Linked DNA regions of Homo sapiens: region 2 is linked to region 1. Evidence: fine-mapped expression QTL. A gene starts in region 1. The other region holds a variant in brackets. All regions are shown on one strand. Distances are from middle to middle.

Region 1 (16,224 bases):
ACTTAGATCAGTCTACTACTCAGTGCTATTATTATTATTATTATTATTATTATTATTATTATTATCATTTTCGAGACAGGGTCTTGCTCTTGTCACCCAGGCTGGAGTGCAATAGCGCAATCTCAGCTCACTGCAACCTCCGCCTCCCAGGTTCAAGCAATTCTCTTGCCGCAGCCTCCCGAGTAGCTGGGATTACAGGCATGCGCCACCACGCCGGCTAATTTTTTGTATTTTTAGTAGAGATGGGGTTTTACCATGTTGGCCAGGCTGGTCTCAAACCCGACCTCAGGTGATCTACCCGCCTTGGCCTCCTAAAGTGCTGGGATTACAGGTGTGAGCCACCGTACCCAGCCTCAGTGCTATTATTTTACATAATTTTATCTAATCCTCATAACTACCCTGTGGGAAAGCTACCATTATCCTTATTTTACAAAGTAGGAAACTAAGAATCCGAGTGGCACACGAACAATCAATCTCTTTCACTTCCTCTTCCAGACATAAGCTCTAACCTCATTTTGCCTTGGCTAATGCTTTTTTTTTTGAGACAGAGTCTCACCCTGTCACCCAGGCTGGAGTGCAGTGGTGCAATCTCGGCTCACTGGCCTCACTGGCCTACCAGGTTCAAGTGGTTCTCCTGCCTCAGCCTCCCGAGTAGCTGGGATTACAGGTGCCCATCACCATGCCCGGCTAATTTTTGTATTTTTAACAGAGAAAGTATTTCACCATGTTGGCCAAGCAGGTTTTGAACTCCTGACCTCAGGGGATCTGCCCACTTTGGCCTCTCAAAGTGCTGGGATTACAGGCGTGAGCCACCACGCCCGGCCTGCCCTGGCTAATTCTTACTCTTCCAGTCTCAGCTTTAATGTCACTTCTTCAGGAAACTACTTCCCTATGCCAAAAACCAGGGCAGGTTCCTCATCACGCAGAATAAAATCCACACATCCTACCATGGCCTCCAGGCTCATGTGTACCTCTCCCCTAGATCACTCTGCTCCAGCCATAGGGGCCTCCATAGACATGGGAACATGAAGATGCTCCCACTCAGGGACTTTGCACTTCCTGTTCCTCTGCCTGTGATATTCTTCCCTAGACCCTCAAATGCCTGGCTCATTCATTAAGTCCACTCACATATTAACTCTTCAGAGTCTCTCTCCACAGTAATTTCCAATTCCATTACTCTTGGTTCCAATACTGTTTTATTTTCTCATCAATTTATCCCATTTTTAAATTACTTGTGCATTCAGGTGTTTAGAAGCTAGCTGTCCATTACCACTAGAATGAATACTCCACAAAGGTCGGGGCTTAGTCCCGCTCACTGCCTCAGCCTGTGTCTAGAAGTGCCCACCCGGTATATAAAAGACACCTGAAGAGTATTTGTTGAATGAGTAAGAGACAGAAGGCATGTGTTGCGAAGTCATCCAGTAAGCTTAATGTCACTCATTTAAGTCAATGAATGTATATTGGCAGATTTTAAGTCAAAATAAAGTTTCAGGTGCATACTCCTTTTGTGTGATGTTCTGCTTTAACTTATCTTTTCATCCAACATCTTCTAGTCTAGATCCCATCAGCGAGGAAGGCTTCTAATATGACTAGCCCAGAAGTTACACTGCACTCGACAGCAGTGAGGACTGGCTATTCCCAAGTTCTGCTCTAAACTACATGCCTTGCTAAGCTGCTGACACAAAGTCTAGAGTATTTGAGTTATAATTTGTGGATAATTATCATAGAAGTATCAAACCCAAGAAATGCCCAAATTTCTGAGGCTTTAGCAAAGCACTTCCTGTCCACTTGCTCATTTGCAGCATCTACTTGAAAGCCAGAATGATCAGTCATCAAAATATTGTGTTTTTAACACAATATAAAAATCATATTTAGACAATTTTTGATGTAAAACTCAGATTAGCCGAGCACAGTGGCAAGCATCTGTAGTCTTAGCTACTTTGGAGGCTGAAACGGGAAGATGGCTTGAGCCCAGGAGTTGGAGGCTATCGTGCACTATGTTTGCACTGGTGAATAGCCACTGTACTCCAGCCAGGGCAACACAATGAGACCTTATCTCAAAAAAAAAAAAAAAAAAAAAAAACTCGGATTATCATTTTTATTCCATTAATAAGAAATGGATAGGCTGGGCGCGGTGCCTCACACCTGTAATCCCAGCACTTCGGGAGGCCAAAGTGGGCAGAACATCTGAGGTCAGGAGTTTGAGACCAGCCCGGTCAACAGGGCAAAACCCCATCTCTAATAAAAATACAAAAATTAGCTGGGCGTAGTGGTGGGTGCCTGTAATCCCAGCTACTCAGGAGGCTGAGGCAGGAGAATTGCTTGAACCTGGGAGGCGGAGGTTGCAATGAGCCGAGATCGCGCCACTGCACTCCAGCCTGGGGGACAGGATGAGACTCCGTGCGCCCCCCAACCTCCCCCCGAAATAAAACTTATTTACTGATCACGCTGGGCCTGGTGGCTCATGCCTGTAATCCTATCACTTTGGGAGGCCAAGGCGGGTAAATCACCTGAGGTCAGGAGTTCGAGACCAGACTGACCAATATGGTGAAACTCCGTCTCTACTAAAAATACAAAAAATTGGCCAGGTGTGGTGGCAGGTGCCTGTAATCCCAACTACTCAGGAGGTCGAGGCAGGAGAATCACTTGAACCCGGGAGGCAGAGGTTGCAGTGAGCCGAGATTATACCATGGCATTCCAGCTTGGGCAACAAGAACAAACTCCATCTCAAAAAAAAAAAAAAAAAAAAAAAGACGTATTAACTGATCACAGTATGAGGATGTGACTTAGATCCTGATTTTTCAAAACTTTTTCAATCCATTTATGACCAATGAAAATTTGAATCTGATCTGACATATGATACTAAGGATTTTTTTGTTATAATAGCATTGTAGCCATGTTCTTAAAAGAGCTCTTATTTTTTACAGGTAATATCAAAATATTTAAGAATGAAATGATGCAATGCCTTTGATTTGCTTTATTTATTTATTTTTTTTTGAGATGGGAGTCTCACTCTATCGCACAGGCTTGAGTGCAGTGGCACAATCTCAGCTCATAGCAACCTCCACCTCCTGCGTTACAGTGATTCTCCTGCCTCAGCCTCCCCAGTAGCTTGGATTGCAGGCGCCCGCCACCGCACTCGGCTAATTTTTGTATTTTTAGTAGAGACAGGGTTTTACCATGTTGGCTAGGCTGGTCTCGAACTCCTGACCTCAGGTGATCCACCTGCCTTGGCCTCCCAAAGGCCATTACAGGCATGAGCTACCACACCCAGCCAATATGCTTTAAAATAATATAGGAAGACAATGACAAATGCTGATAACATTGTGAAGAAAGAGAACTCTCATAAATTGCTAGTGGGATGTAAAATGGTAGAGCCACTTTGGAAAATAGTTTGGCAGTTTCTTAAAAAGTTAAACATAAATCTATCATATGACCCAGCAATTCTACTCCACTCCTGGATATCATCCAAGAGAAATGAAAACATATGGCCCCACAAAGCCTTGCAATGTGAACGTTTATGGCACCATCATTCATAATGGCCAAACAGTGGAAACAACCCAAACATCCATCGACTGGTGAACTGCTAAGCAAAAGAAGATATATCCACACGCTGGAAGACCATTCAACAGTAAAAAGGAATGAATTACTGACACATGGCACAAAATGAACGAAGCTCAAAAAAGAAAGAAAGAAAGATGGGCACAAAAGCCTACCTATCGGCCGGGCGCAGTGGCTCACACCTGTGATCCCAGAACTTTGGGAGGCCGAGGCGGGCGGACTGCTTGAGGCCAGGAGTTCGAGACAAGCCTTGCCGCCATGGCAAAACCCTGTCTCTACTAAAAATACAAAAATTAGCTGAGCGTGGTGGCAGGTGCCTGTAATCTCAGCTACTCGGGAGGCTGAGGCAGGAGAATCGCCTGAACCTGGGAGGTAGAGGTTGCAGTGAGCCGAGATAACGCCATTGCGCTCCAGCCTAGGCAACAGTCCGAGACTCCGTCTAAAAAAAAAAAAAGAAAAAAAGCCTACTCATCCTGTGATTCCACTTACATTAAACATCCAGAAAGGGTAGGTTTATAGAGACAGAAAGTAGATTAGTGGCTGCCTGGGACTAGTGGTGGGAATGGGAATTGATTCTAAACCAACACAAGGGATCTTATGGGGTGACAGAAACGTTCTGTGGCTAGATTGTGGTCATAGCTGTACAACTCGGTAAACTTACTAACAATCATTGCATTATACAGTTAAAATGGGTGATCTTATGGTATGTAAATTATACCTCAATAAAGTTGTTCTTAAAAGGCAAGGAGTATTTCCTGCTGACAGGTCTTTAAAAAAATAAACAAAAATAATAAATAGCCAGGAGCGGTGGCTCACGCCTGTAATCCCAGCACTTTGGGAGGCCGAGGCAGGTGGATCACCTGAGGTTAGGAGTTCAAGACTAGCCTGATCAATATGGCAAAACCCCATCTCTACTAAAAATACAAAAATTAGCCAGGCGTGGTGGCGCATGCCTATAATCCCAGCTACTTGGGAGGTTGAGGCAGGAGATCGCTTGAACCGGGAGGCGGAGGTTGCTGTAAGCTGAGATCGCGCCATTGCTTTCCAGCCTGGGTGCCAGAGCAAAACTCTGTCTCAAAAAAAAAAAATAATAATAATAAATAAATAAAAAGGCAAGGAATATAGGGAAAAGTCAAAAGAGATGGACTGTGAGAAGACTGGGAAAGCCAGAAGAATGGTGGAAAATGTAGCATGGAGTAAGACAATAAAAATATAAGAGGACTCATTTCTAATTTTAAAAATAATAAAAAATAAGAACCAGAAATTGATGTATGTGGGATGAGGCAGAATCAGCCATGTGTTGATGGTTATTGAGGGTGACAGGCACATGGGAGTTCATTATGCTATTCTATCTGCTTTAGTATATTGGAAATTCTCCACAATAAAAAGGTTGTTTTGCTTTGTCTTTTTTTTTTTTTTTTTTAAGAAATAGGGTCTCACTCTGTCCCCCAGGCTGGAGCCATTATAGCTCACTACAGCTTCTGACTCCTAGGCTCAAGGGATCCTGCCACCTCAGCCTCCCTGGTAGCTGGGACTATAGGTATGCACCACCACATCTGGCTAATTTTTGTTGCTGTTGTTGAGATGGGGTCTTGCTCTGTCGCCCAGGCTAGAGTGTAGTGTCGCCATCATAGCTCACCGCAGCCTCCAACTCTTGACCTCAAACGAGCTTCCCTAAGTGCTGAGATTACAGGTGTGAGCTACCAGGCGCAGCCAGGTTTTAAGAGATCAACGCATACTCCTGGTACTCAGTGACCTCTTCATGTTATCCTTGCCATTATGGGTCTCTAATCTGATCAAGTACCCTATTTCACTCAGTCTCAAGCAAAACAGACAATCTAAAGTTGCTGCTCTGACAGGCTCTCTTCAAATGATTTCCATTTCCTTGGGCAAGAACTCAGAACAAGCTTGTCCAGGATGCATGCGGCCCAGGATGGCTTTGAATGCGGCCCAACACAAATTTGTGAACTTTCTTTTTTTTTTTTTTTTTTTTTTTTTTTGAGAAGGAGTCTCGCTCTGTCACCCAGGCTGGAATGCAATGGCGTGATCTTGGCTCACTGCAAGCTCCGACTCCCGGGTTCATGCCATTCTCCTGCCTCAGCCTCCCGAGTAGCTGAGACCACCGGCACCTGCCACCACGCCTGGCTAATTTTTTGTATTTTTAGTAGAGACGGGGTTTCACCTTGTTAGCCAGGATGGTCTCAATCTCCTGACCCTGTGATCCGCCCATCTCGGCCTCCCAAAGTGCTGGGATTACAGGCGTGAGCCACTGCGCCCAGCCAAATTTGTGAACTTTCTTAAAACATTATGAGATTTTTTTGCAATTTTTTAAAGCTTATCAGCTATGGTTACTGTTAGTCTATTTTAGGTGTGACCCAAAACAACTTTTCATCTTCCAATGTGGCCCTGGGAAGCCAAAAGATTGGACACCCCTGACTTCGGATGTTTATTTTATTTTATTTATTTATTTATTTTGAGACGGAGTCTTGCTCTGTCGCCCAGGCTGGAGTACAGGGGCTCAATCTTGGCTCACTGCAACTTCCTACTCCTGGGTCCAAGCGATTCTCCTGCCTCAGCCCCGAGTAGCTGGGATTACAGGTACCTGCCACCACGCCTGGCTAATTTTTGTATTTTTAGTAGAGATGTGATTTCACAATGTTGGCCAGGCTGGTCTCAAACTCCTGACCTCAAGTGATCCACCCACCTCAGCCTCTGAAAGTGCTGGGATTACAGGCGTGAGCCACCGTGCCCGGCCAAGTTTTGTCTACATTTCTACATGCACTTTTCTGGAGAGAGGTTCTATAGCTCTCAACAGATTCTCAAAGAGTCAAAATTCACTTGCCCCACCCCCACCCCTGTGATTGAACCATTTTAATCAGGATAATTTTTACCTACAAACAACAAAAGTTGTTACCAAAAAGTAAGGTTGTATGGATCCAGTCAGGCTTGCATTTATTTATTTATTTATTTATTTATTTGAGACAGAGTATAGTTCTTTCGCCCCGACTGGAGTGCAGTGGCACAATGATCTCTGCTCACTGCAATCTCAGCCTCCCGGGTTCAAGCAATTATCCTGTCTCAGCCTCCCAAGTAGCTGGGACTACAGGCATGTGCCACCATGCCCGTCTAATATTTGTATTTTTAGTAGAGAGGGGTTTTGCCATGTTGGCCAGGCTGGTCTCGAACTCCTGACCTCAGGTGATCCGCCCACCTCGGCCTCCCAAAGTGCTAGGATTATAGGTGTGAGCCACCGTGCCCAGTCAAGCCAGGCTTTTAATTTCATTCTGTATTCTTTAAATTCTACATTAACAAAATACAATGCTTCATAGTTTGCTAAAACAATGTGTTTTTACAAGACAAACTTTCTACAGTTCCACTTCTTTTTTTTTTTTTTTTTGAGACGGAGTCTCGCGCTGTTGCCCAGGCTGGAGTGCAGTGGCGGGATCTTGGCTCACTGCAAGCTCCGCCTCCCGGGTTCACGCCATTCTCCTGCCTCAGTCTCCCGAGTAGCTGGGACTACAAGCGCCTCCCAGGTTCACGCCATTCTCCTGCCTTAGCCTCCCGAGTAGCTGGGACTGCAGGCGCCTGCCACCACGCCTGGCTAATTTTTTTTTTATTTTTAGTAGAGATAGGGTTTCACCGTGCTAGCCAGGATGGTCTCGATCTCCTCACCTCGTGATCTGCCTGCCTCGGCCTCCCAAAGTGCTAGGATTACAGGCGTGAGCCACCGCGCCCCGCCTACAGTTCCACTTCTTAGAAGACTGTATGGTATGAAAATAATGTACAAGAGTTTGGGTCATAACAATTTACTTTTCTATGTCTCTAATTTTGTTTATATGTTTTGAGAAAGGGTCTTGCTCTGTTCCTCAGGCTGGAATGCAATGAGTAATCACGGCTCACTGCAGTCTCAACCTCCTAGGCTCAAGTGATCCTCCAGCCTCAGCCTCCCCAGAAGCTGCAGGCGTTTGCCACCACACCTGGTTAATTTTTAATTTTTTGTAGAGACAGGTTTGGGGAGGGGGTCCTTAGCACGTTGACTAGGCTGGTCTCGAACTCCTGGGCTCAAACAATCCTCCTGCATAGGCCTCCCAGTGTTGGGATTACAGGCATGAGCCACAGCACCTGGACAATTTCCCAGATATAGTAAACTGCTGAACCACCTTAGGGTGCGTTTCAGCCTTAGAGGTCTTTTCTCTGCTAGTTACAAAGCAAGATCCAGAGTATCATTCTAGGTTTATCAAAAATCTCTCTTCCCTAGACAATGGCTGGATAGAGGAAGAAAAAGCAGGCCCTTTGATTAGAGACACACCTTAATGCTGGCTTTACATTCTCAGTCACGTGTTTTAAGCAAGATTTGAAATTCCTTCTCTAGAGTCTCGCTCCAGAGAGCGCCCTAAACCGAAATGGGAAACTGAGGCTAAGGTTCCAAGTACCTTCAAACCGCCGGTACAGTACAAGGGCACAGAAGAGCGGAGACCGCGGACAAGGAAAGCCAGCATAAAAGCTGGAGGGGAGAAAGAAGAAAGGCGATCGGGCTGCCCTGAGTGAGGAATTCAGGGAAGCCAGCAGGGATTTAAGAGCAGCCTCCCGAGTCCGTGGGGGCAACGCCACAGTTCAGCCCCTTCCCCTCCCTCAGCTCGAGTCTTCCCGCCCCGTGCCGGTCAGCCCGAAGACCCCAGCGCCGCCCAGACCCGCCTTCCCCACAGACCCCGCCACCTGTCAGTGAAAGGCCGCAGCCAGGGGCAAAGAGGTGGTCCAGTGGCTCAGAGGTCCCCAATGGGCCAAAGTTGCCCTAAAACCCGGGGAGTGGCCTCGGCCTCCGCCCCCCGGCCCGGCCTTGCCAAGCTTTACCTTGAGTGCCAGGTGATGGACGCGGCCCAGGCCAGGCTCGGCCAGCAACTGCAGCAAACCCAGCATTGGGAGCAGCCGGAGGCCCGCGGCCAGCCTAGGACCGCGGGAGGCGGGGGAGCCGACGGGCGCCAGAGCGGCCATGTTTGTTCCAGCATCACCAGCCGCTTCCTCTCCCGCCCACGTCCGGGGTGAAAGGGCGCAGCCGCCGGAAGGGCCCGGGGAGCGGGGCTCGGCGGCTAGCTCCGCTGACCCTGTGGTCGTTTTCCTGGAGATTGCGACCTAGGAAGTCGTCGAGGAGCCTGTGCTGCCCACCTCGGGGCCCTTCGATCGGCCGCTCCTGTGCAGACTTTCAGTTAGAGATGAAGCCAACCTATTGGCGGTTGCCATAACAACGGTGGCCGAACCAGACCAGCCCGGGCCGCACCTCCGCCTCGCTGAGCTTTGGAAGCGACCTTGGGCTCCGGGGACCCCTGATCTCAGGGTCGGGGGATAAGCTGTGTCAGCCGCACGGTGTCGGGCCACTGATTGAACTGATTTCACTGAGCGTTGACTCGGAGGAAAATATCTAAAAATTCCCGGCTCGCCGTAGGGGTCCTGTGGTTTTCTAGGCGCTTCACACTCAAATACAAGCGAAATGGTTGCAATAATACGATTGATTGAGCCCTTATGAGGCAATTTGTTAGGCCTTTTGTTGTATTTAATTTTTGGAACAATTTGATGAGCTAGGAGGTACGTATTATCATTATTCCTACTTTACAGGTAAGCAAACTGAGGCTCTGAGAAATAAGTCATTTGCTCCAGGTTGAGCTGGGAATCACACGGAAGCTCTTAACTCCTGTGTTCTGTTGCCTCATGCTATTTCATCCAACCCCAAGTCTGGGTCTTAACATTTTTCTCTTAATTCTGTATGGAAACTTTCTTTGCTTCTTTCAGAAATTATAGGAACTTCTTTTTTTTGAGACGGAGTCTAGCTCTTGTCACCCAGGCTGGAGTGCAATGGCACGATCTCAGCTCACTGCAACCTCCGCCTTCTGGGTTCAAGCGATTCTCCTGCCTCAGCCTCTGGAGTAACTAGAATTACAGGCCTGCGCCACCACGCCCGGCTAATTTTTGTATTTTTAGTAGACACGGGGTTTCTCCCATGTTGGCCAGGCTGGTCTCGAACTCCTGACCTCAAGTTATCCTCCCGCCTCGGCCTCCCAAAGTGCTGGGATTACAGGCGTGAGTCACTGCGCCCAACCTGCTTTGGAGTACTTTTTATCTTTTAAAGTTAAGTGGCATCTTTGAAAATCTCTGGTTTTAAATTTGAATATAATACTGTACTAAAAACGAAATGAGGCCTGGCAGGGTGGTGATTCGCGCCTGAATCCCAGCACTTTGGAACGCCGAGGCGGGCGGATCACTTGAAAGTCAGTTGTTCGGGACCAGCCTGGGCAACATGGCAAAACCTCGTCTCTACTAAAAATACAAAAATTAGCGGGGCATCACGGCCGCGCGCCTGTAGTCCCAGCTACTGGGGAGGCTGAGGCAGGAGAAGCACTTGAACCTGGGAGGCAGAGGTTTCAGTAAGCCAAGATCATGCCACTGCACTCCAGCCTGGGTGACAGAGTGAGACTCTGTCTCAATAAAAAAAAAATCAGGTAAGAATCTTAATCCCATTTTATAATACAATAGTGATGAAACATTAAAATAGTTTTAAATAGGAGACTTTTGTCTTAGTTTCTGGACAACAGTTTTATAAGGGCTTAAAACTGGGTTCATAGCATTCCTTGCTTCTCTATACTTGGGTATTATCATGTGACCTACATAGGGTCATACCAGTGCTGTCTGTCCAGGGGTTTAAGAGGATATCTTCTTCTTTCACATATTTGAAAGCTGTATTGTGCCAGTCATTATTTTGGAATTGAGAGGAATAAGAATGAGGGAAAACTGACTACAAAGACATTGTTGAGCATTTTCTCTACAGTTACTTCTTAAATTCTAGAAAACTGCTGCCTTGACAATTACATTTAGCCATGTGATTTCATAGTTTCAAGAAAAGATTATTTGCATAATCATGATGCTGTAACTGGAAACAAACAGGCTGAGTAACAGAACAAGTTATGCCTGCTTCTCCTGGCAACATTTTCAAAGGGACATTACACTTTAAGGTATTGACTGAAAAAGCCTGCAGGGGCTGGAAAGACTGATCTCCTAAGCTTGGCTTTTAGCCTTACTCTCTTAGTCAAGTACATTTTATTTTTCTATTTTCTCTCCTTTTTTTTTTGAGACAGAGACACTGTTGCCCAGGACTGAGTGCAGTGGTGTGACATCTGTTCACTGTAGTCTCCACCTCCCAGGTTCAAGGGATTCTCATGCCTCAGCCTCCCTAGCTGGGACCACAGGTGTGCGCCAGTATGCTCAGCTAATTTTTGTATTTTTGCTAGAGATGGGGTTTCACCATGTTGGCCAGGCTGGTCTTGAACTCCTGGCCTCAAGTGATCTGCTCACCTCGGCTTACCAAATTGCTGGATTACAGGCGTAAGCCACCCTGCCTGGACTATTTTCTCTAACTTTTCAGGATCAGCTTAAGGTTGCTACTAGAATGTGTAGTGTTGAATCTAGTGCTATTATTATTAAATAATTATTTGATATCGGTTTGGACATTTTCAGAACTCTTTTAAGTAATTAATGTGTTAATAGTCTCCAGTTTAAGAAAGTATAATTGCCATTTGTTTTTCTTATCAAAAGACTTGATAGGCCTGGCTGGTGTCTCATGCCTGTAATCCCAGCACTTTGGGAGGCCAAGGCTGGTGGATAACTTGAGCCCAGGAGTTTGCCACCAGCCTGGGCAACATGGTGAAACACCTTCTCTACAAAAAATACAAAAATTAGGCCAGGGGCGGTGGCTCAGGCCTGTAATCTCAGCACTTTGGGAGGCTGAGGTCAGTGGATCACCTGAGGCCAGGAGTCTGAGACCAGCCTAGCTAACATGGCAAAACCCCATCTCTACTAAAAATACAAAAATTAGCCAGGCATGGTGGCGCATGCCTGTAATCCCAGCTACTCAGGAGGCTGAGACAGGAGAATCGCTTGAACTTGGGAAGCGGAGGTTACAGTGAGCCCAGATTGTACCATTGCACTCCAGCCTGTGTGACAGAGCGAGATTCTGTCTCAAAAAAAAAAAAAATTAGCGAGCATGATTGCACCAATTCACTCCAGCCTGTGCGACAGAGCAAGACTCTGTCTCAAAAACAAAAACAAAAAAACAAAAAAAAAACACAAAAATTAGCGGGCATGGTGACACGCACCTGTAGTCCCAGCTACTCAGGAGGCAGAGAGGTGGTAGGATTGCTTGAGCCCAGGAGTCAACACTGGAGTAAGCCATGACACTTTTATCCAGCTTGGGTGACAGAGCAAGACCCTGTCAAATAAAAAAAAAAAAAGAGTTGATTGATATTGCAAACCAAAAGCCTCTGTTAAGACAGTATAGGAAACTAGTGGTCAAATTGGGGCCTAGCAATACATTCAGAAGTCAAATGCTACTTTTCATTCTTTGGCTTGAAACACCATTTCTTCCAGGATTGCAGCTAAAGTTTTCATGCATTTCTTGGGGTGTCGGGAATGCCTCCAAGTGCATCTTTTTGTAGAAAGTGATCATGGAAAAGCCAGGCTCTGACACACTTTGAGTCCTGTGGATTGGAGAGAAACTTCAAAATTACTCCTCAACCTGACGACCCTAGTGTATAACTTGCTCAGCCACAGGACAGGCAGTCTTTCTTGATTTTATGTACATCTTTACAGGGGAATTGGATTATTCGTTGTAAAAATTCATTGCAGTTTTAGCATTTCACTCACCATGGAGTTCCTGGTTTTATCCTACTCCACTTTTTCCAGTTGATTGCTTTCTTGAGTCCCTAGTAAGTAGTTCGAATGCAAAAGAAGTTGGAAATTTTAAGCTAAAAACAAGTAATTTTGAAGAAGAAAAAATCCTGAGAATTTCATTAGAAGTAGTTCTTCACCAGTAGACAACCAATCAACTGTAAGTTCAGGCAGGCGGTCCTGCTGCATCAGAAATGTTTAAAGGCCTGTATTCCCAGCTACTGGGGAAGATGGTTTGAATCCAGGAATTCAAGGCTGCAGTGAGCTATGATCATGCCACTGCACTCCAGTCTGGGCAACAGAGCAAGACCTCTCTAAAAACAAAAACAAAACACAAAACACACACAAAAAAAGAAAATGCTGAAAGGATTGCTTTATTTTCTACAATAAGTAAAAATCCTCCAGAAAACAGGAGGAAAGGAAAGGGAACTGATACTTGTGTGTATATTATGTGCTAAACATTTTATACGTATTCTTTCTTTTAATTTTTATTTTTATTTTTATTTTTTTTTGAGACAGAGTCTTACTTTGTTTCCCGGGCTGGAGTGCGGTGGTGCAATCACGGCTCACTGCAGCTTCCAACTCCCAGGCTCAAGCGATCCTACTGCCTCAAGCCCCCAAGTAGCTAAGCACAACCGTGCCGGGCTAATTTTTGTATTTTTTTGTGGAGACGGTTTCGCCATGTTGCCCAGGCTGGTCTAAATCTCCTGGGCTCAAACAGTCCTCCAACCTTCACCTCCCAAAGTGCTGGGATTATAGGCATAAGCCACCTTTCTTTCAACCTTTACAATAACCTTTGAAGTAGCATTATTTCTATTTTATTTTTTGATTTTTGAGACAGGGTCTCGCTCTCAGGAGTGCAGTGGCATGATCAAGGCTCACTGCAGCCTCAATTTACCAGGCTCAAGCAATCGTCCCACCTCAGCCTCCCGGGTAGCTGGGATTACAGTTGTGCACCACTGTGCTTGGCAAATTTTTTTATTTTTTGTGGACACCAGGTTTTTCCATGTTGCTCAAACTGGTCTTGAATGCCTGGTCTCAAGCGATCTGCCTGGCTTGGCCTCCCAAAGTGTTGGGATTACAGGCATGAGCCACTGTGCATGGCCATATTTACATTTTAAAGAAGAGGAAACTGGCCGGGAGTGGTGGCTCATGCCTGTAATCCCAGCACTTTGGGAGGCCGAGGCGGGCGGATCACGAGGTCAGGAGATGAGACCATCCTGGCTAACACGGTGAAACCCCGTCTCTACTAAAAATACAAAATACTAGCCAGGCATGGTGGCGGGCGCCTGTAGTCCCAGCTACTCGGGAGGCTGAGGCAGGAGAATGGCTTGAACCCAGGAGGCGGAGCTTGCAGTGAGCGGAGATGGCGCCACTGCACTCCAGCCTGGGCGACAGAGCCAGACTCTTATCTCAAAAAAAAAAGAGGAAACTGGGCCGGGCGCGGTGGCTCACGCCTGTAATCCCAGCACTTTGGGAGGACGAGGCGGGTGGATCACGAGGTCAGGAGATCGAGACCATCCTGGCTAACATGGTGAAACCCCGTCTCTACTAAATGTACAAAAAATTAGCCGGGCGTGATGGCGGGCGCCTGTAGTCCCAGCTACTTGGGAGGCTGAGGCAGGAGAATGATGTGAACCCTGGAGACGGAGCTTGCAGTGAGCTGAGATCGCGCCACTGCACTGCGACAGAGCGAGACTCCGTCTCAAAAAAAAAAAAAAGGAAACTGAGGCTTAGAGAAGGAAAGTAATTCAGCCAAAGCTCTCTATAGCTGTCTGGACAGAACTATACAAATCTGGCTAACACCAAAGACTGTACTCAACCCCAGTTCCTTCATTTCAGACTAATGACAACCTATGAGATCCCTGTCTTTTTTTTTTTTTTTTTTTTTTTTTTTTGAGATGGAGTCTTGCTCTGTCGCCAGGCTGGAGTGAAGTGGCGCGATCGCGGCTCACTACAACCTCTGCCTCCTGGGTTCAAGCGATTCTCCTGCCTCAGCCTTCTGAGTAGCTGGGATTACAGGCACACCACCACACCTAATTTTTTTGTATTTTTAGTAGACATGGGTTTTTGCCATGTTGCCCAGGCTGGTCTTGAACTCATGGGCTCAAGCGATCCGCCTGCCTCGGCCTCCTAAAGTGTTGGGATTACAGGCGTGAGCCACTGCGTCTGGCCAAGATCCCTGTCTTCTCAATGAGTAAACTGAAGCTCAGATAATGTAAGTAACTTGCAGAAGGCCACACAACTAATAAGTAGTGGAACACTGGGATCCCAATTTAACAATTTCAAAACCCTATCTGCTTTAAAATCTCATATCTATCTACAGCTATATAAATATCTGTCCACCTAAGATCCCGAATTAGATGTTTATTAGTTGCAAGCAGGGTTAGAATTGCCAAAAAGCCCTAATACAATTGTTTGCCTCTAACCACACAGCCATCTATACAGGGTCTCTGTTCTGTTTGACCGGATACCTTATTTCGTTGCTAATACTGTCCATGTGATCAGATTATTCAGTGGAACATGTTTGAGTCCCCCACTGAGAGTAGGAAAAAAAAAAACATAAACTTACAGGGTTTTTTGTTTTTCTTTTTGTTTTCGAGATGGAGTCTCGCTCTGTTGCCCAGGCTAGAGTGCAGTGGTGCGATCTTGGATCACCACAACCTCCACCTCCCAGGTTCACGCGATTCTCCTGCCATAGCCTCCCGAGTAGCTGGGACTACAGGCGTGCGCCACCATGCCCAGCTAATTTTTGTATTTTTAGTAGAGACAGAGTTTCACTATGTCGGCCAGGCTGGTCTTGAACTCCTGACCTCATGATCCATCCTCCTCGGCCTCCCAAAGTGCTGGGATTACAGGTGTGAACCACTGCGCCCAGCTGTTTTGTTTTTTACTTAATAATTCACATAGGGGACTTTTGTGACCAAACGTGTTGGGATTTCTTCCCACCACCAACCAAGTAATTAATTTTGTAGTGGACATCAGCTGAGTGTCCTTTAATTTAGTGTTCTTTTAATTTTTATTTTTTTTTAGAGACTGGGTCTTGCTGTCACCCTGGCCATAGTCTAATGGTGCAATCACGGCCCACTGCAGCCTCGCACTTCACCTGCCTCAGCCACCATATACCTGGAGATAGTGTCAGATATCACAAATTGAGGGCTTGGTCCTCAAGACTGCCCCCCACCCCAAGTAGGTGTCAATCTTAAGTTTTAGGTTATGTGATCTGTCTTTTTTGACGAACTGTTTATAAATCAGAAATCTCAAGTCCTCCTTTTTGGGTTTAATTTGTTACAGTGCCTCACAGAACCTAGGGAAACATGTTTATTATAAAGGATATAGATGAAGAGATATATGGAGTACGGGGGAAGGAGAGTGGAACTTCTGTGCCCTCTCTGGGCATGCCACCCTCTAGGAACTTTTTTTTTTTTTTTTTTTTTGAGATAAAGTCTCACTCTGTTGCCGGAGTACAGTGGCTGGAGTGTAGTGGCGCGATCTTAGCTCACCGCACCCTCCGCCTCCTGGGTTCAAGCGATTCTCTTGCCTCAGTCTCCCAAGCAGCTGGGATTACAGGCACCCATGACCACACTGGGCTAATTTTTTTTTTGGTGTTTTTTTTTTTTTTTTTTTTTTTTGTATTTTTAGTAGAGACAGGGCTTTCACTATGTTGGCTAGGCTGGTCTCAAACTCCTGACCTCGGATGATCTGCCTGCCTCTGCCTCCCAAAGTGCTGGGATTACAGGCGTGAGCCACCACGTCCGGCCAACTCTCTAGGGACTTTTATGTGTTTAGCTATCTGGAAGTTCTCAGAACTTTGTTTTTTGGAGTTTTAATAGAGGCTTTATTTTATGTAGTCATGATTGATTAAGCTATTGACCATTACTGAACAACTTAACTTTCAGCGCCTCTCCCCAGTCCCCGGAGGTTGGAGTGACAGTGTGGGTGCAGATAAAA
Region 2 (16,224 bases), 81 kb before region 1:
CTCAGCTGTGCCCCATGGCTTTGCCCCGTGGCTTGCTCCCCTCCTCAGTACTGTTCTCTCCCGTGTGGCACAGCCAGGCTTACTCATCATTTCATCTGCAGCCCTGCCCATACCAGCGTGTGCTGAACGATGTTGAACCTTAGGCGACGGAGGCCGACTGGAACCAGGGCTCTGAGTGACAGAGACGCAGTTATGTCTAAGGACATACGCTAGAATGGCTGATGCAGGGCGCAAGCTCGATTCCTGCAGATGTGTGTTAATGAGCAGCTCCCTCATTTTTGCAAAGGTCAGCATTCCTTTGGCAAACTGGGAAGGAGCAGTTTAAGGTGCAGCTCCCAAGTGGGTCACACCGACCCCCCAACATCCAGTTCCCAACTGCTGAGCGTGCTTCTCTTCGTGGGAGTGGGCGGGCCAGTGCCGAGGGGCTCAGGACGGATTCTCAGAAACGCCCCACCATGCAGGTGGCTTACGGGAGGGCAAAGCCAATGCCAGCCTCCAGGAAGTCTGCGCTTTCTTTCCTTAGGGTAAGCACTTACCCAGCCTCCTTGTTACTTAGCCTGAGGGAGTCTACGGCTACCAATCTGCCGACCTGACAGATTCCTGGTGAAGGGCAGGCCACCCAAAGGCAGCTTCGAAAATTAAGGAGCCTGGGTGGGGGCAGGGAGGATCTACCCAGGGTCCTGGGGCCTGGGAGCAGTAGGCTCTTCTCAGAAACACATACTGGGGCCAATATCTGCTCTGGATTTAGCCTGCACTGCCTGTTTTATCAGAACAAGCAGAAATCCCCCGGCCTCTTGAAGATCAGGACCCAATTATTTCTCTGACTTCAAGAGTTTGCCTACCAGACTAGAGTTGTTGACCGTTATGTTTTTCCAGCTGCCAATCAGAGTGGACCAGCTGGAGATGACCAATCACATGACAAGACTCCTGCACAAAGGGAAGAAATGAGATGCTGCAGCTGAGGAGGGCGGCCAACCTGGGAGGCATCTGGCTCCCCTGACAATGCCTGCCGATCGCCAAGCTGGCTTCCAGACCTCCTGGGACAGAACTGTTCCTCCCAGGACGCTGGTGTAGGTTCAAGTCCAGTTGATATTTACTAAGCAACTGCAATGCCCAGGCCTGTTCCAGTGCTGCAGAGAGTAAGTGCTTATGGGTGCTTATATTCAGAGTAAGTCAATACACCAGCTTCGTATGACCTGCGTCTTCGGGGCCAGCAGGGCAGGTTGGTCTCCTCAGCCTCACACTGGAGCTCCTGGCTGGCTGGTGTCTGCGGTCAGGACCCTAGTGATGGGAGGCTCAGCAAACAGAGGAGGCAGAGGGGCTGTTCTGAAATGACCTTGAAACGACCTATCACCCTCAGGGGTGGTCTTACTGGATGAAGTCCAGCCCGCCATAGGCACTGAAGGGCTCTCATTTGCTGAGCCCTTGCTTTGCGCCAGGCGGCTCTTCCTCTGCCGACACTGATCAAAGGAGGGTGCGAGGCTCAGCTACTGAAGCCGGGGTCAGACTTGTGGGCGTGGGCTTTTCTAATGCCAAACCCACGGGCGCCAAGGCTTCTCAAGCTCATCCTGTCAGCCCCTGAATTTCTAACTGGCAAAGCTCCACGCTAGCGGTGGGGGAAGAAGGAGCCAGAGAGACCTGAACTGCAAGGGGACCCCATGTGGGATGGTTCAGGGGAGCAGCAGGACAGCCAGGCCCCTGCCAGCACCTGCCTGCGGTCTCTCACCTGGTCCCGACTGCAATGCCTCCTGGCAGGACAGAGCCGCCGACTTCTGTCCCGTAAGAGCTGTGTGCAAGGTGGGCCCTTGTCCGTGTTGCCAGCTGAAGACTGACCCAAGACTCGGGAAGAGAACTGGGTTGGATCTGTTCTCAGTGTGGTCCAGATCTGCCATGTTGGCACCAGCTGGGAGTGTGTTAGCAATGCCGACTCTCAGGCCCCCCAGGAACTCTGTCGGGGATTCGGGTGCTTGCTGTTTGAGGACCACTGGATTAGATATCAGCAAGGTCCTTCCTGAGTCTTTTCTCAGCTGTCCCCTTCTCGAGTTGCCTTGGCATCTCTCATCCTGGGTTCTGAATCCTGGACTCCCTACTCTCAGGACACCCCATGCCTCCTACTCATGCTTTGCGGCACAGGCAAGGTCTCCAGAAAGAGCTGCGGGTGGGGCATGGCCACTAACTGGGAAACCTTGGCCACGGACAGGGATTCTCTCTCCTTCTCATTCTGAAATCCTATGATCTGGTGAACTGAGGTTCATGCTCACTTTTTTTTTTTTTTTTTTAAGACAGAGTCTCACTCTGTCACCCAGGCTGAAGTGCAGTGGTAGGATCTTGGTTCACTGCCAACCTCCACCTCTGGGGTTCAAGCAATTCTCCTGCCTCAGCCTCCCGAGGAGCTGGGACTACAGGAACGCACCACCACATCCGGCTAATTTTTGTAGCTTTTAGTACAGACAGGGTTTTGCCATATTGCTCAGGCTGGTCTTGAACTCTTGACCTCAGGTGATCCGCCTGCCTCGGCCTCCCAAAGTGTTGGGATTACAGGCGTGAGCCACCGCACCTGGCCCATGCTCACATTTTTATAAGCACAACGGCAGTAACCAACAGAGCCATTTTTCTGAGGCCTTCCTGTGCCCAGCACTGGGCCAAGCCCTTGACTTAATCCTTATTATCCCAACAAGGTTGGAGTCAGCAGGCCTGGGTTCTTGTCTCAGCTCTGACACTTACTAGCTGGGGGAAAAAGGGGAAGGATGTGGGTGGGCAGTGGCAGAACCTTCTTTAGGCCCCAGTTTTTGCGTTTTGAAGGCAGGGCTTTGGAGGGATGAATCACAAATCAGTATGCTGTGTGAAAGCAGCCAGACACGAAAGAGGGCACCCGGCGCAGTTTCATTCACATGAAGTTCTAGATGAGGCAAATGAGACTACGCTGGAATCAGAGCCGGGGCTGTGGTAGTTTCAGAAAGGGGGCAGTTTGGACCGGGAAGGGGCAAAAGGGGGCTGCGTGGGGTGACGGGCACGTTTCATCTTGATTGTGGTGGAGGCCACAGGACTGTACATCCATTTGTCAAAACGCAACAAACGGTACATTTAAAAAGGATGGATTCTACTGTAGGTAAAATATGCCTCAGTTTAAAACATTCTTAGTAAAATATGGGCTTTGGAACTGAATGACTTCTAAAAATGCTTTGAGTCTAAAATCCTGGATTTCTCTGCTTCCAACATGGGGTAACCCAGAGCTATTGCTAACCGATGCAGAAGGTGCATTTGCGCCTGTCACAGTGCGGGCTCTGCGCCAGGCCTGCCATCTCCCCTCAAATGGCAGCAGTGCCCCGACACTGGTTCACAAGACATCGCCCGCCTCCAGCGTAAGCAGGACAGCAGTAACCTACAACCGGTTTTCAGTTATCTGGGTCTTAATTGCGCTGCCACAGATCGGCTAAGATGCCTGGAACTTCTCTAGTAGGTGTCACTATTGTCAGTAGGAGCTGGTGGGAGGCAGTTAACTAATTTAATGAACAAAAATCACAAAGAAAAAAATTATGAGATGGAGGTGGAGGAGAGACAGCACCAGGAGCCGGCAACTCCCTGCATCTCAAACACACACGGTTCTGCCAGATAATCTTTATTTTACACATTTGCAACACGGCAAGAGAATTCACCCCGTACATCACCATGATCGGATCCCCCACCCATTATACGTTGTATGTTTACATAAATACTCTTCAATGATCATTAGTGTTTTAAAAAAAATACTGAAAACTCCTTCTGCATCCCAATCTCTAACCAGGAAAGCAAATGCTATTTACAGACCTGCAAGCCCTCCCTCAAACGAAACTATTTCTGGATTAAATATGTCTGACTTCTTTTGAGGTCACACGACTAGGCAAATGCAATTTACGATCTGCAAAAGCTGTTTGAAGAGTCAAAGCCCCCATGTGAACACGATTTCTGGACCCTGTAACAGTATCTTACGTGCTCCAAAGGCTGACCTTCTGGAGGCTCACCGCCTCATCTGGCTGCTTCCTCCAAAATCCAAAACCTTGCCTCAAAATAAGCTGTCCTGTGGGTGAGTTGGCTGTTCTGTTTCATTCTGACCATTCTGACTCTGCCCAGAACGCCGTCCCACCTGCAGACACCCTGCTGCCAGAACTCCAACAGGTCCCCGAGGTAGCGAGGCCAAGCCATGCCCATTCACTCCTGCACCATCTCAGTGTGCTCCCTCACACAGGGCCTGAGATGTGTGGGGCCCATGGCCTGGCAGTGAACCATCTAAAAGCATTATCTATTTTTCAAGCATAAACCACGCAGAGAGGCTCAGATGCATCGCTGGGCTACAGAAGTGGCCTCTGGGGAATCTGGAGTATGTTCAGCCTGCCGACCGATAACTACGTTCCAGGTGGTGACAAGTATTAGCGTCAACTCAGGTAGATGCCTTTTAAAAACGCCCTGCCAGAAACACCCTAGGGAAAACTGGAGTGAAGAGCGGGTCTTTCAGAACATTTGGTACTTTCTGGATGAATATCTTTTTGATATACCAAGAGGCATCAAGTCAAAGTCTCACTTCTATAGCGAGGAAGCCATTAACTTGCTGAATCCTAAAGGGAAGAATCAAGCCGCAGGCCACAGGCATCCTGGACTTAGCTTACGTGAGTCTTACAAGGCCAGGGGCGGGTCAGAGAAAAGCAGCGGGGTGAAGTGTGGAGTGTGGAAGCAGGGGTGCAGCAGTGTGCTAGATCTGTTTCCTTTGAAGTACAGCAGCTTGGCAGCATGAAGCATGAGTTGTTCCACTGTTCTACTGGGTGTATGGAGCTGGGCCAACAACCTCAGCAGACTATCTAATGTTCTAAGAGCCTTCCTCAAAGAAAATGTTTCAGGACGGGGGAGAAGGCCAGAATGCATCTGCAATTCCAACAGGCATCGCTATGCTCTTCCTTGGTCTGTAAGGACTGGATGCCTGGAGTAGACTGTTTTAAGTACCAAAACAAGACACCCATTTTAGTGTGGAGGAAGACCAGCCTATATGGCCCAGAGCAATAATATTTGGCATGAGTATGCCACTCTTGAGAAAATTCTCCTTAGCTTAGAAAATGCATCTTTCACACAGCTGCTGGGAGAAAACGCTGCAATGCACCAAAGCCTTTAGCCGGTGTACCCAGAATGAGCCTATGTGGGATCAATAGGCACGGGGAGAAAGATGGCAGAGAAGGGAAGAGGAGGGAGGAGGAGGGAAGGAGGAGGAGAAAGAGGTGGAGGAGGGAGGAGGAGCGGAAGGGGAAGGGGGAGGGGTAAGGGCGAGGGCAGAGGAGGAGGGGGAGGGGATGGGGAAGGGGGAAGGGCGAGGGCAGAGGAGGAGAGAAGAGGGAGGGAGGCTGTGGAATGAGACAGCAGAGATGGCGATGAGGTCATCACGCAGGAGGAAATCTCACCCACACGAGGTGGACTTACAGGGCTGTGTGCTGCCTGGGCAGGCTGGACATGTCCAGGGCGGGGAAACCCTGGATATTTCACTCTGAAGTGGTTTCTTGAAAGAAAACTCAACTGACTCAGGCCATGAGCATCTTTTACACTGAAGCAAGCATCTCCTCACAAGTGCCTCCTACAAGTCACTAGAGTCATATTCAACATTACAAAATGCAGTGCTACTTAAATTTTAAAGCACTGAGGGACCAAGAAATGGGCTGATCAAGTCCTTGGCCACTCACTGTTAAGAGCCAGGATTTACAGATCAATGACTGTTCCTATTGTCCAAGAAATAATTTTCTAGCAAAGCATACACACTTTATTAAATTTCACAGCCAGCAGCGCTTTCAGTCCACAACAGATTTCTCAGAGGAAACATGGATATTTTGCGTAGGCAGAAACAGTGAGGAGTACAAAGCAAAGCTATAAATACCACCAATGGTTCTGCTATGTGCATCCGATATTTTTTGCCCGATCTGAAATACTGCAAGGGCTTAACCATTCAAACACCGCATGACAACGAACCCAGTGGACTGTGAAACTCAGGCTGCAGGAGGGTGGCTTGTCAGCTGGTGAAGCCACTTGGCTTTGGACTCCATCGGTCATCTTTACGCAAGAGCAGAGATGAACGGTGGGTCACGGCTATGACGTGAAGGAGAAAGAGAAGACACACTCACAGAACAGGATGGAGAGCTTCAATAATTTTTTAAAAGCTTGGAACCACCACCTGCTTTCCCAATCTTGGGCTGGGGTTTTGACTTTTCTTGATCATCAATCTGACTTGAAGCCTTTTACCAGTTACAATACAGACATGGCCAGATGACCTGCTTGTTAGGAAGGCTGTGGCCATCTTTGTTTCTGAAACAGTCTTATCTCATCTGTCCACTGCTGCTCTGGAAGGGTCAGGACCAGCACTGCAGACACTCGGCCATGCTGTGAGTGAGCCCAGACATACGCGTGGAATCTGAACACCCAACGCTGGCGTTCCCGTGCCAGTCTGAGGGCTGCGGCTCCAGCGCTTGTCCACACACACGCCTGCCTCTCTCTAGTTCCTCCACTGCCTGGCTTCCTCGCTTGCAAAACCCAGCATGTGAAATGAGGACACCTCCACGGAGACCCTTCCGAGCAGGGAGGTTTCATCACACCTTTCGTTCTTGCCAAGGAGTCTATCGCCTCATCCACAACATCTGCTTGCGGGAGAAACAGCAAATGTGTCCCTCTGAGGGAAGGACTGAGGAGGGCTTTGGTAGTCACAGATTGAGACACATTTCTGCGAAAACTGGTATTATGTTTCTGCACAGGAAAACAAAGTGTTAAAAATATTCCCATCCTCCCTCCAACTCCCTTCTGTCACACAGTCCCAAGTGAACTTGAAAAAGGTCCAGAAGTGAACACTTAGGGTGCATTTACCTTTCTCCTGAAGATGGGAAGACACACGGATGCTTGCCTAAAATATCTGCCGAGAGGTGAGCAGCTGTGGCCTGGGAAGGCGCTTGCTCTTCCTCCACATCAGCCAGAAGGCAGATCACACCTTCAGAGCACCCTACAGAACCCAGATGGCGAATCAAAGTGCAGAAAAAGAACACCCGCTTCCTCATTAGTCATTTAGGAAGATAAGATAGCATGGGACAGGGAGAACAACCATGTTCTGAATGGAGACTTTTTCAGGTTCCCAAACTTGGGACAGTGAGTGTGACCCCACATCCTGTGGTTTCTGCCTGACCCTTCTAAGCCAGAGGTGAGAAAACAACTCCCAGAGACCACGACTCTCACCCTCGGAGGTACCTGTTCCCCTGCAGGTGTGGCTCTCTGACAACCCCTAGGCAGGGGTGGGCTCCAGCTTTTGGAAGCAACCCTACCTAGCTGGCCCCCCAAGCATTAAGAAGCTTCCCTGATGGGGCCATGTTTTGGTCTCCTTTTAAGCCCTCAGTCACAATGTACCTTCTGAGCTTGTCCTACTATTCAGATGATTTTCTCTCTGAGTTGCAATACTGCTCAATTTAGGTGGCTACCTGTGTTCATTCAAGCTCTGGAAGTGTGGAAGGGAACTTAATCATTGAGTTTCTGTGAAGTATTTTGCCATCCTAAAATCCCTGAGAGTGAAACTGTTGAATCATGCTCACTTTCTTCACATACATACTCTTGGACTATGGGGACCAAGTCTGTTGAATTCATCTATTTAGAAATCCTACTAGCCTACAGGAAAAGCTTTTTAATGGGGATGATTTGCTTGGACTTAAGTATTTGCTTAAATACTACCTATTCTGCCCCCAGCTGCTCCTT[G/A]AGGAAAACTTTCCATTTCCCCCAAAATTCTGATCAAACACAACAAAGCCACAAGCATGAAGGGAAGCCAGACAGTGCTGCTCTGGGCTGTCAGGGAGTGGATGTCCAGGCAACGCCACAGGATAATGCTTTTTGAACTTAAAAATACATTTCTTTCCATCCATCAGGCAACATCTCAGTCAGAAAACCACCTCCCACCACCTGTGCTGTGCCACAGGGCATGATCCTGACAGCGACATCACAGCCTTCTTTTCCTGTTGGAAAGAAGACCACTGGGCCTCAGGAGCTGCTGTCCTGGTCACTCTCAGCATCTGGAATAAGGGTCTGGGGCAAAGCCGAGGGCAGGAATCCTGGGGCAGGTGCTACATCCTAAACTGGGTTTTGACTTTGCTTTCCAAAGTCACCTGTTTTCGTTCATTTTTGTCTCCCAAACAGGCAATGGCACTCTCCCCGCCCTTCTTCTTAAGTCCCAGGGTCCTCAGTAGACATTTCCTAAAGCATCAGACAGACACCTCGCACCCTCCTTCCCCCTCCACCAGCCGTCCTTGCTACACTTCCCCACACATGGGGTCACAACTGCATACACCTTAGAGCTCCGAAATGAAGAAGAAAAAAAGAAACCTAAATTAAAAATGAATTCTTCCTTTTCTCTTCCTCTCCTCCTCCCTGTGCCCGCCCTCCCATTCCCGCCTGAAAGAGGATCCAGCTGCCTCTAAACAGCCACAGATCGTTTCCATAAAAGAGAGTACAAAATCAGGTTTCCGCGGCACTGTGCTCCAGCCATGTGCCCTGGTGTCACTGTCGGTGGTGCCAATAGTTCACTGTAGGAGCTGCTCCTGCTGTCCAATAGGACTATGAATAAGTTAACAGTTTCCTTGGACAGTGCCATCCTCAGGGTCGGCTCTGTCACACGGCGCCTTCCCACTCGCCCTGGGGCTCCACGGAGCCGTTGGTCACCTTCTTGACTTTCTTCATACTTTCCATCACCCCAGATGTTGTCACACTGAACAAGGAAAGAAAAAACAATTAGGAACATCTCACAGTCTCTTAGTAAAAGGCCATCTCTGCCACAGCACGGTGATTAGGACTGATGATGGGTGTTGGTTTTTGAAACAGACAAAATCTAAGTGTGATTCCTGGTTCGTTCCTTACTAGCTGTGTAACCTTGGCCAAGTCACTTGAACTCTCTGTGCTTAAGTAATTCTCACTTTCCAGAACTGTCATGAGGAAAAATGAGATTCTCCAGAGTGCCTAATCAATAAACACCAGCTATCGTTATCACAATCATCATGAATCTTTTTGTCACAGCTTGCGGAATTTTTGTGGCGCACAGATATGTGATAGTTACGCTTATGAGACTGAAATCTGACTCTTAATGGACATTCAGAAAAGAAAGCTAATTAGCCAACCAGACATTTTTAATAAGCAGCCACAATGGATCATTTCTGAGCCAGGGGACAGAACCACAGGTTTAGAGGAACCTTCCAGGATCAAAGATTCTTTGGCCACTATAGACAGAGAACTGGCTGCTTTCTGCTAGCTGGGGCTGGGCCATGTGGCTGTGCCTCAGCGCATGGCCTCTGCCTCCACTCTGTGAGCTCCCGGGGCTCTGTCTGTTGGTGCCTGGCTCTGAGGAGGCCCCATGGAGCCATTCGTTGAAATCAAGGATTAAAAATGGAAGATCGCTGGTCTCGCAGGGCATGAGGAGCTGAGCAAGGCAGCCCTTTCCATTAGAAGGAATCACATGCACGGGCCCCACCTTCTCAAGAGGATAATCTCTTGCCTCACAGAAGGTGAGCTGGTCTATGAGGGAACTGGGTGGCTCTGTGAGTAGCAGAACTAGGCAGAGATACTGGGTGTCAAAAGCCGCTTGGCCCAGCATCTTCCCTGCAAGCGAGGAAACAATGAGGATTTATGCTCCCCCATGGTGGACCAAAAGAAATTTCCTCATCAGTAAAATAAATTCAATCAATCAACTCAACAGGCTCTTTCCAAGGACCCAACCCATCCCTCTGCCAACTACCTAACCCCTTCCCCTACAAATGGCAACACAGTGGCCGTATATGTGACCCATCTAGAGTGCATGCAGCTGGACCTCATGGTAAGTAAATGTTTGTATGGGGTAAGGGAAGAAAACTTCCCCCTCTTCTTCATCTCTTCATTCTTGCCATTATGGTGCTACCATGCCCAGGCTCAAAGAATCCCCCAAGCCGGAACCTTTCTCAAACGAGTCCTTTAGACTCACAGGTTATTTGTACTTATGGCAAAGTTGGGACAAGGTATGTGGCCAGATCCCATAGATGCTATAAGTGACTCTAAAAGCATCCCCTAAGACGAAAATGCCTCAGCTGAAGCCGCCCAGCGTCACTTCTGGCCAGCTGGCTTGTGTCTCAGGCCTGGCCTCTTTAGGAAGACACTTGCCCCAGGAGGGATCCATGTGCACAGGGCTGCTCCTGAAGGGACCTTCTCTAGACGGGGATGCAGGAGGTAGGGCCTTTGCATGAGCCAGAGAAGCCCCTGCCCCGAGCCACGTAGCAGCCCCCGTGCCTCTCCACAGTGACTGAGACCACAAAGAAATGCGACCCCACGTCTTCCAGAAACACTCCAGTAATCACACAGCTGTCCTATGGTTACTGCATCTTGTTAAAAAAGGACAAAGAGTTCAATGCACGTTGATTCTAAGAGGCAAAGCGCATTCACTGTGACCCGGATATGGGCCTGACGGCAGACTTGGGAAAAACATTTTCTCCCTTTCTTTCTCTAAGAAAATACTCCTTTCCACATGGTGGGCCAAGTGAGAAAACAACTTTTATTCTTCAAGACAGGCCTCATGCTAGGTCATCAAGGAAAAAGAAGTGGTCTTATTGCTCTTCGGAGCCCACAGCCCAGGAGAAGAGATGGTCTTCCACAGCAACCCTGCAAAGCCACTTCCAACAGAGACAGGAGTGCTGGGAACCGGGTTCGGTGATGGCTCGGGCTGAGAAGAATCCCTCTGCCGGGGAATCGGGGAAGCCAGGAAGCCCGTCATGAGATGCAGAGGATCTGGCCCACAAGATGGGTGGGAGGTCAGGGGAGTTTCCAAAAAGAAGAAATATAACAGGCAAAAAGCATGAAGGAAAAACCCAGGACATTTCCCAGGGCAGTGAGGGAGTGCTAAGTACTTGCAGTGTGTGGATTGTATATGTGTATATATATATAAATATATAAAAATATATATATATTTTTTTTTTATTTGATTTTTTGAGATGAAGTCTCGCTCTGTCACCCAGGCTGGAGTGCAGTGGCGCCATCTCGACTCACTGCAACCTCCGTCTCCTGGGTTCAAGTGATTCTCGTGCCTCAACCTCCCAAGTACCTGGATTATAGGTACATGTCCCCATGCCCAGCTAACTTTTGTATTTTTGGTAGAGATGTGGTTTCACCATGTTGGCGAGACTGGTCTCAAACTCCTGACCTCAGGTGATCCACCTGCCTCGGCCTCCCAAAGTGCTGGGATTACAGGCGTGAGCCACTGCACCTGGCCTACGGCAAATATATTTTAATACATCCAGCCAGTCTGGGAAGGAGAGTGGCAGGGAGAGAACCAGGGTGGACACAGGACGGCAGGGTTGTCGAGGGCCCAGTCTGCCTGGTCACCCAAGGATGGCCTTGATTCCTACTCTGGCAGTTCTCAGCCCTGCCTCCTGCTCAGGCTGCCCTGGGGAGTGAGAAAAGCACAGATCCTGAGCCCAAGGGGTGAGAATCAGAGTCTCCAGGGGTGCGGCCAGGAAACTGGCACTGCAAAAACACTCTACAGGTGATTCTAGAGCCCGGGAGAATGGACAGGAAGGGCTGGGCACACCTGTATTCCCAGGGCAGCTCACGCCTGCATTCCCAGCACTTTGGGCGGCTGAGGCGGGAGGACTGCTTAAGCCCAGCAATTTGAGACCAGCCTGGGCAACATGGCAAAACCCTATCTCTACAAAAAAATACAAAAACATTAGCTGGGCATGGTGGCATTCATCTGTGGTCCCAGCTATTAAGGAGGCTGAGGTGAAAGGATTGCCTGAGCCCGGGGAGCTCAAGCCTGCAGTGAGCTGTGATAGTGCCACTGCACTCCAGCCTGGGTGACAGAGTGAGACCCTGTCTGCAGGGGAATAGAAGGATGGACAGGAAGGGGAGAGGATCGGGAGTGAAGAGGTCAGCCACCACAAAGCCCAGGCACGAGAGCAAGAGGCGGGGTGGGGCTGGGGGTGAGAGGCACAAAGTAAGGCCTACAGGACGCTCTGCACGGGCTGAGGAAGAGGGACGTGGTTCAGCCATGGCTGCAGGAGACTGGGTGGATGTCCGTGTCACCAAGGCCTATAGGGAACAATGGGGAGGGGCGAGCTTGGTGTGATGCAGGAAGACTGTGGCTTCAAGGCTGAGGTGACGCGGAGCAGGAGGACAGGGGGACCTGGCATTCAGGAGGGGCCGGGGGCAGTGAGGGGGTAGCAGGGGCAACCCTGGGCTTGGGTGAGTCCTGGGAGTGCGAAGAGGGAGAACGGGAGTAAGGGTGTGTGGTAGCGCAGGAGGTTGTCACAGGCAGGGCGGGTGACAGGGAGCTTCAGTGTGTGGCCAGGACTGGGAGTGGCAGAAGTGAACTCAAGGAGAGGAAGAAACCTGATGGCAGATGCCCAGGGTGGGGTAGGCGCTACATCCTGTTCCCCCAGCAAACCTCTGGGAAGCTGAAGGGACACCTGGGGCCCCCACGATGTGAGGAAACCTGGCTAGCCCCCTGCAGACAGGGCGCCCGCAACGGTCCTGGAAGCTCAGGCTCTGCAGCAGTGAGAAGAGAGACCTGGGTCAGATGAACACCCAAAAGCCTCCCTGGCAGGAACATACGGCGGTGGGGCTTCAGCAGCTTCGCAGCCACCTCACTAGGTGTCCTAGTTTTGGTGCAAACACTTAAGGGACCGAACAGCTGAAGGGCCAACATCCGACCGCCGCAGATAAGCGTTCTTTCCTTGACATCTAAACAGTAACCCCCTTTCCTTGCAAAGCCCCAAGTCTCTGTGTTTGCAACCAAAAGTGCCAAATGGGACACAGGTTCCTTCTGCCACACAAGACTGCAATCAAATGTGGCTTGGGCCTAAGTGGTCCACGGATTCATGCGTTTTTTTTTTTTTTTTCTTTTTTGAGACGGAGTTTCACTCTCATCGCCCAGGCTCGAGTGCAGTGGCGTGATCTCAGCACACTGCAACCTCCGCCTTCCGATTTCAAGAGATTCTCCTGCTTCAGCCTCCCGAGTAGCTGGGATTACAGGTGCCTGCCACCACGCCCAGCTAATTTTTGTATTTTTAGTAGAGATGGGGTTTCACCATGTTGGCCAGGCTGGTCTCGAACTCCTGACCTCGTGATCTGCCTGCCTCGGCCTCCTAAAGTGCTGGGATTATAGGCATGAGCCACTGCACCCAGCCGATATATCCATTTCTATAACTAAAAAGTGTTTTCTGGTCTGGAAGTGTGGGGAGACCTGGTGAAGAGACAAGTCTATTAGTCCCCAATCCCCATTTCCACACACGTTCCTCGCCCACATGAAATAATGCAGGGAGTGGTGAAAGGTGAACAGCAACCATGAATGAGGACAGCGTTCTGGAATGGGAACCCCAGGGAGAAAACCTCCTGGCCCAGGAACCCACACCAAACATTTCCTTCCACTCTCACTCCTCAAGATGACAGAAGTAATTCAGATCATTGAGGATACCCACAGCCTAGGAGGCAGCTACCAAGTCTGATAATTGAAATCGCATCCGATACTTTTTAACTTGCTGATTATTGACCGGTAACTTCTGTTGCCAAAACTGGTAGGCCTAAAGAGAGATGGTCAAAGAAACAGAAGGGGAAAGAGAGAGAAAGTCAGTGTTACTTTGGACTGTGCCCTCATACCCAGGCCCAGAGAGAGAAGCTGTGTCAGGCCTGGTGGGGTAATGGCTGCACAGAGGGCAGCTGCGTGGGCCGCGTTGTCAAAGAAGCACCAAAACAAAATTTTAAAAAAATTGTTGCCACGAAACAAAAATACCTTCATAATGCATCCAGGCTCCAAGATGTAACGGCTGAGGGAAAGGATGTGGGAAGCGGGAACCTCCCATTACGACTGTGGAGTACAATGCAGTAAAGGAGACGATGCTGCGACCCGGCCGCTCGGCTTCTAGCTGCCTACCCAAAGAACCCCGTGTTATGCGGACGGACCAAGCCAAAGGCTCCCAGCAGGGGAATGATAAACACACCGCGTCTTAGGTTATTTCCTGATGCTGCTGGTTGCCAGCCTGACATGTGTGCCTCTTCAACCAACAGACACTTGCTCAGATCCTGCCACTTCTGGGAAAGGCACAGCTGATGGGCCTCCTGCACTCCTCTCCACTGTTTAGAAGGAGGTGTTTCTTCCTCTGCATGGGGAGATGCTGTTTGGCGCCCGCTGGCAGGACCTGCCTTCCTTTACTGTTGCCGTGGAGCTGAGCAGAGAGAGCTGTCCCATGCTGCCTGACCCGCTGACAGCCAAGCAGAGCTTAGCATGGGCCGAGTCTCAGCCTCTGAATTGGGAAGAATTCAAAGGCTGCCAGGGCTGGGGGCAGAACACTTGATACCAGTGAACCAAGAAGGGAAAACTCTGCCTTAGGCTAATCATCAAACACAGCATTGACCTGGCTTATCAAATTTCAGTTAACAAGCAAATATGCTTAATCACTACTCATTTTTCTAGACAATGATGGCCCTTTCCCAGAAAATAGGACCCTAGAGTCATTCACTGTGTGACTCAGAAAAGCCCCTATTAGTGCTCAGATATAGGTCAAAGTCATTGTGCTGTGAAAAGCCACGCAGTTATCTGACGATAGAGGATGTCTGAGGATCATTAGCAGACTTAGAGATGACTCAGAAGATTCCATTTTCAGACGTAAGCGCCTGATGGCGGGCCTGACAGAAAGTCGGCCCCCTGTTCTCCCTCGTGAACTGGCCACGTATATTCCTAAGTTCTTGCCACTGAGTTCTTGAAAGCAGGCTCCAATGATGCTTAGTGGAACGGCAAGTTCCATCTTCCCTGACAAGACCCAGCTAGGTTTGGCAGATACTGTACTTCAAACCAGATCAGACAGCCTGGGGCTCCAGTGTCCGCTTCCTTCTGCTAAAAATAGAGGAACCACCCCTGCAGCCACGAAATGCTGAGAGCAGCCGACCCGATTCACACTGTGCTGCTTTGTGTTAGGCAAAGGGGTCAGGGCTAAGGAAGAGGGAAGAAAGATTTCTTACACGGACTCCATTTCCAAGTCTTCTTCTTCCTGAGAAAGTTGTAGGTAGGGGTTATCTGAAGCCGGACGGAATTTATACCCCGTTAGAACAAAGAAGACCAGTGTGGCCGTTTCATCCAGGAGCTGCAAGTTTAAAAACCACCCCAAAATAAAGAGATTAGCAACACTGTTCTTCAGAAAGCAGTGGAATTCAACAAACTGACATATTTCCCCACAACCCACCACTCGATGGTTCTTTACTCAGATGCCACTTCCTGCTACAGGGCATTTTCCTTAGACTTGCCGAGGCCTAAACGAGGAGTGTCCTGCCCAGGGCTGACATTTCCGAGGCTGTGCTCTGCTGTGCTTTCACCAGTCTTCATGGGTAGCTTTTAAGAGCTCACCACATACCCACTTCCTCCCACAGTGCCTACAGCACCCAGTGAGTTATTCAAGAAAAAAGTCATTTGGTGGCTTCCTCTAGTAGTTAAGCTAGTTCTAGTTTGTCGCAAAGATACTTATTATCGAAATAATAAAATGGGCAAAGAAGAAGGGCAGCCTGAATTCTAACTACTCAGCCCTGTAACTAAAGGAAAGGACCACATCTCATCTAAGTTCTAATGATTCAGGGCAAATCTTTCTCTACCTGAAGCTTTTCTCTTGACTTTTAAGACTGAAAACTAAAATCAAGAATGCAATTATTTTCAGATTCCTCATAGAATCCAGCAGCATTTCTGGACAAACAGATCATCTCAATTATAGGCCAGAAGAGATGGAAGGAGGCCAAGTGTGGTGGCTCACACCTGTAATCCCAGAACACTGGGAGGCCAAGGTGGGCGGATCACTTGAGATCAGGTGTTTGAGACCAGCCTGGCCAACACTGCAAAGCCCCATCTCTACTAAAAAAACAAAAATTAACTGGGCATGGTGGTGCATCCCTATAATCCCAGCTACTCAGGAGGCTGAGGCAGGAGAATCGCTTGAACCCGGGAGGTGGAGGTTGCAGTGAGCTGAGATTGCGCCACTGCACTCCAGCCTGGGTGACAGAGTGAGACCCTGTCTCAAAAACTAAAAAAAAAATTTTTAGTTAAAAAAAAGAAGAGATGGAAGGTCTTAGTGGTCATTCCCAGATAAATTAGTAACAACTGTTAAGTTACACTTCAAGACTTTATCCTCAGGCATAAATTCTCTGGCATTCTGCCCTGTGAGCAGCGTACCTGGTAGAGCCACTTCCACTGGA

What was found. PIP is the estimated chance that this variant, and not a neighbour inherited with it, causes the effect.
Region 2: its variant is fine-mapped to the expression of GPR107 in whole blood (TOPMed, PIP 0.94).

Annotation. Positions count from the first base shown.
Region 1 is chr9:130,046,262-130,062,485 of GRCh38, reverse strand. It overlaps GPR107 (G protein-coupled receptor 107), which reads right to left and starts at 8,580. Exons shown (of 18, transcript NM_020960.5): 1 at 8,413-8,580. The coding sequence starts at 8,553. It also overlaps a transcript of FNBP1 not described here. RefSeq lists a silencer at 8,283-8,592 and an enhancer at 13,132-13,632.
Region 2 is chr9:130,127,544-130,143,767 of GRCh38, reverse strand. It overlaps GPR107 (G protein-coupled receptor 107), which reads right to left. Exons shown (of 18, transcript NM_020960.5): 16 at 16,202-16,224; 17 at 15,007-15,128; 18 at 3,604-8,743. The coding sequence ends at 8,647. It overlaps GPRACR (GPR107 adjacent cis regulating lncRNA), which reads left to right. Exons shown (of 2, transcript NR_135124.1): 1 at 1-524; 2 at 877-3,158. Among named protein-coding and RNA genes, the nearest start is that of GPRACR, 8.6 kb to the left of the region's middle. RefSeq lists enhancers at 1-364, 1,139-1,912, 14,591-14,810. The variant G/A (reference allele first, on the strand shown) is at 7,741.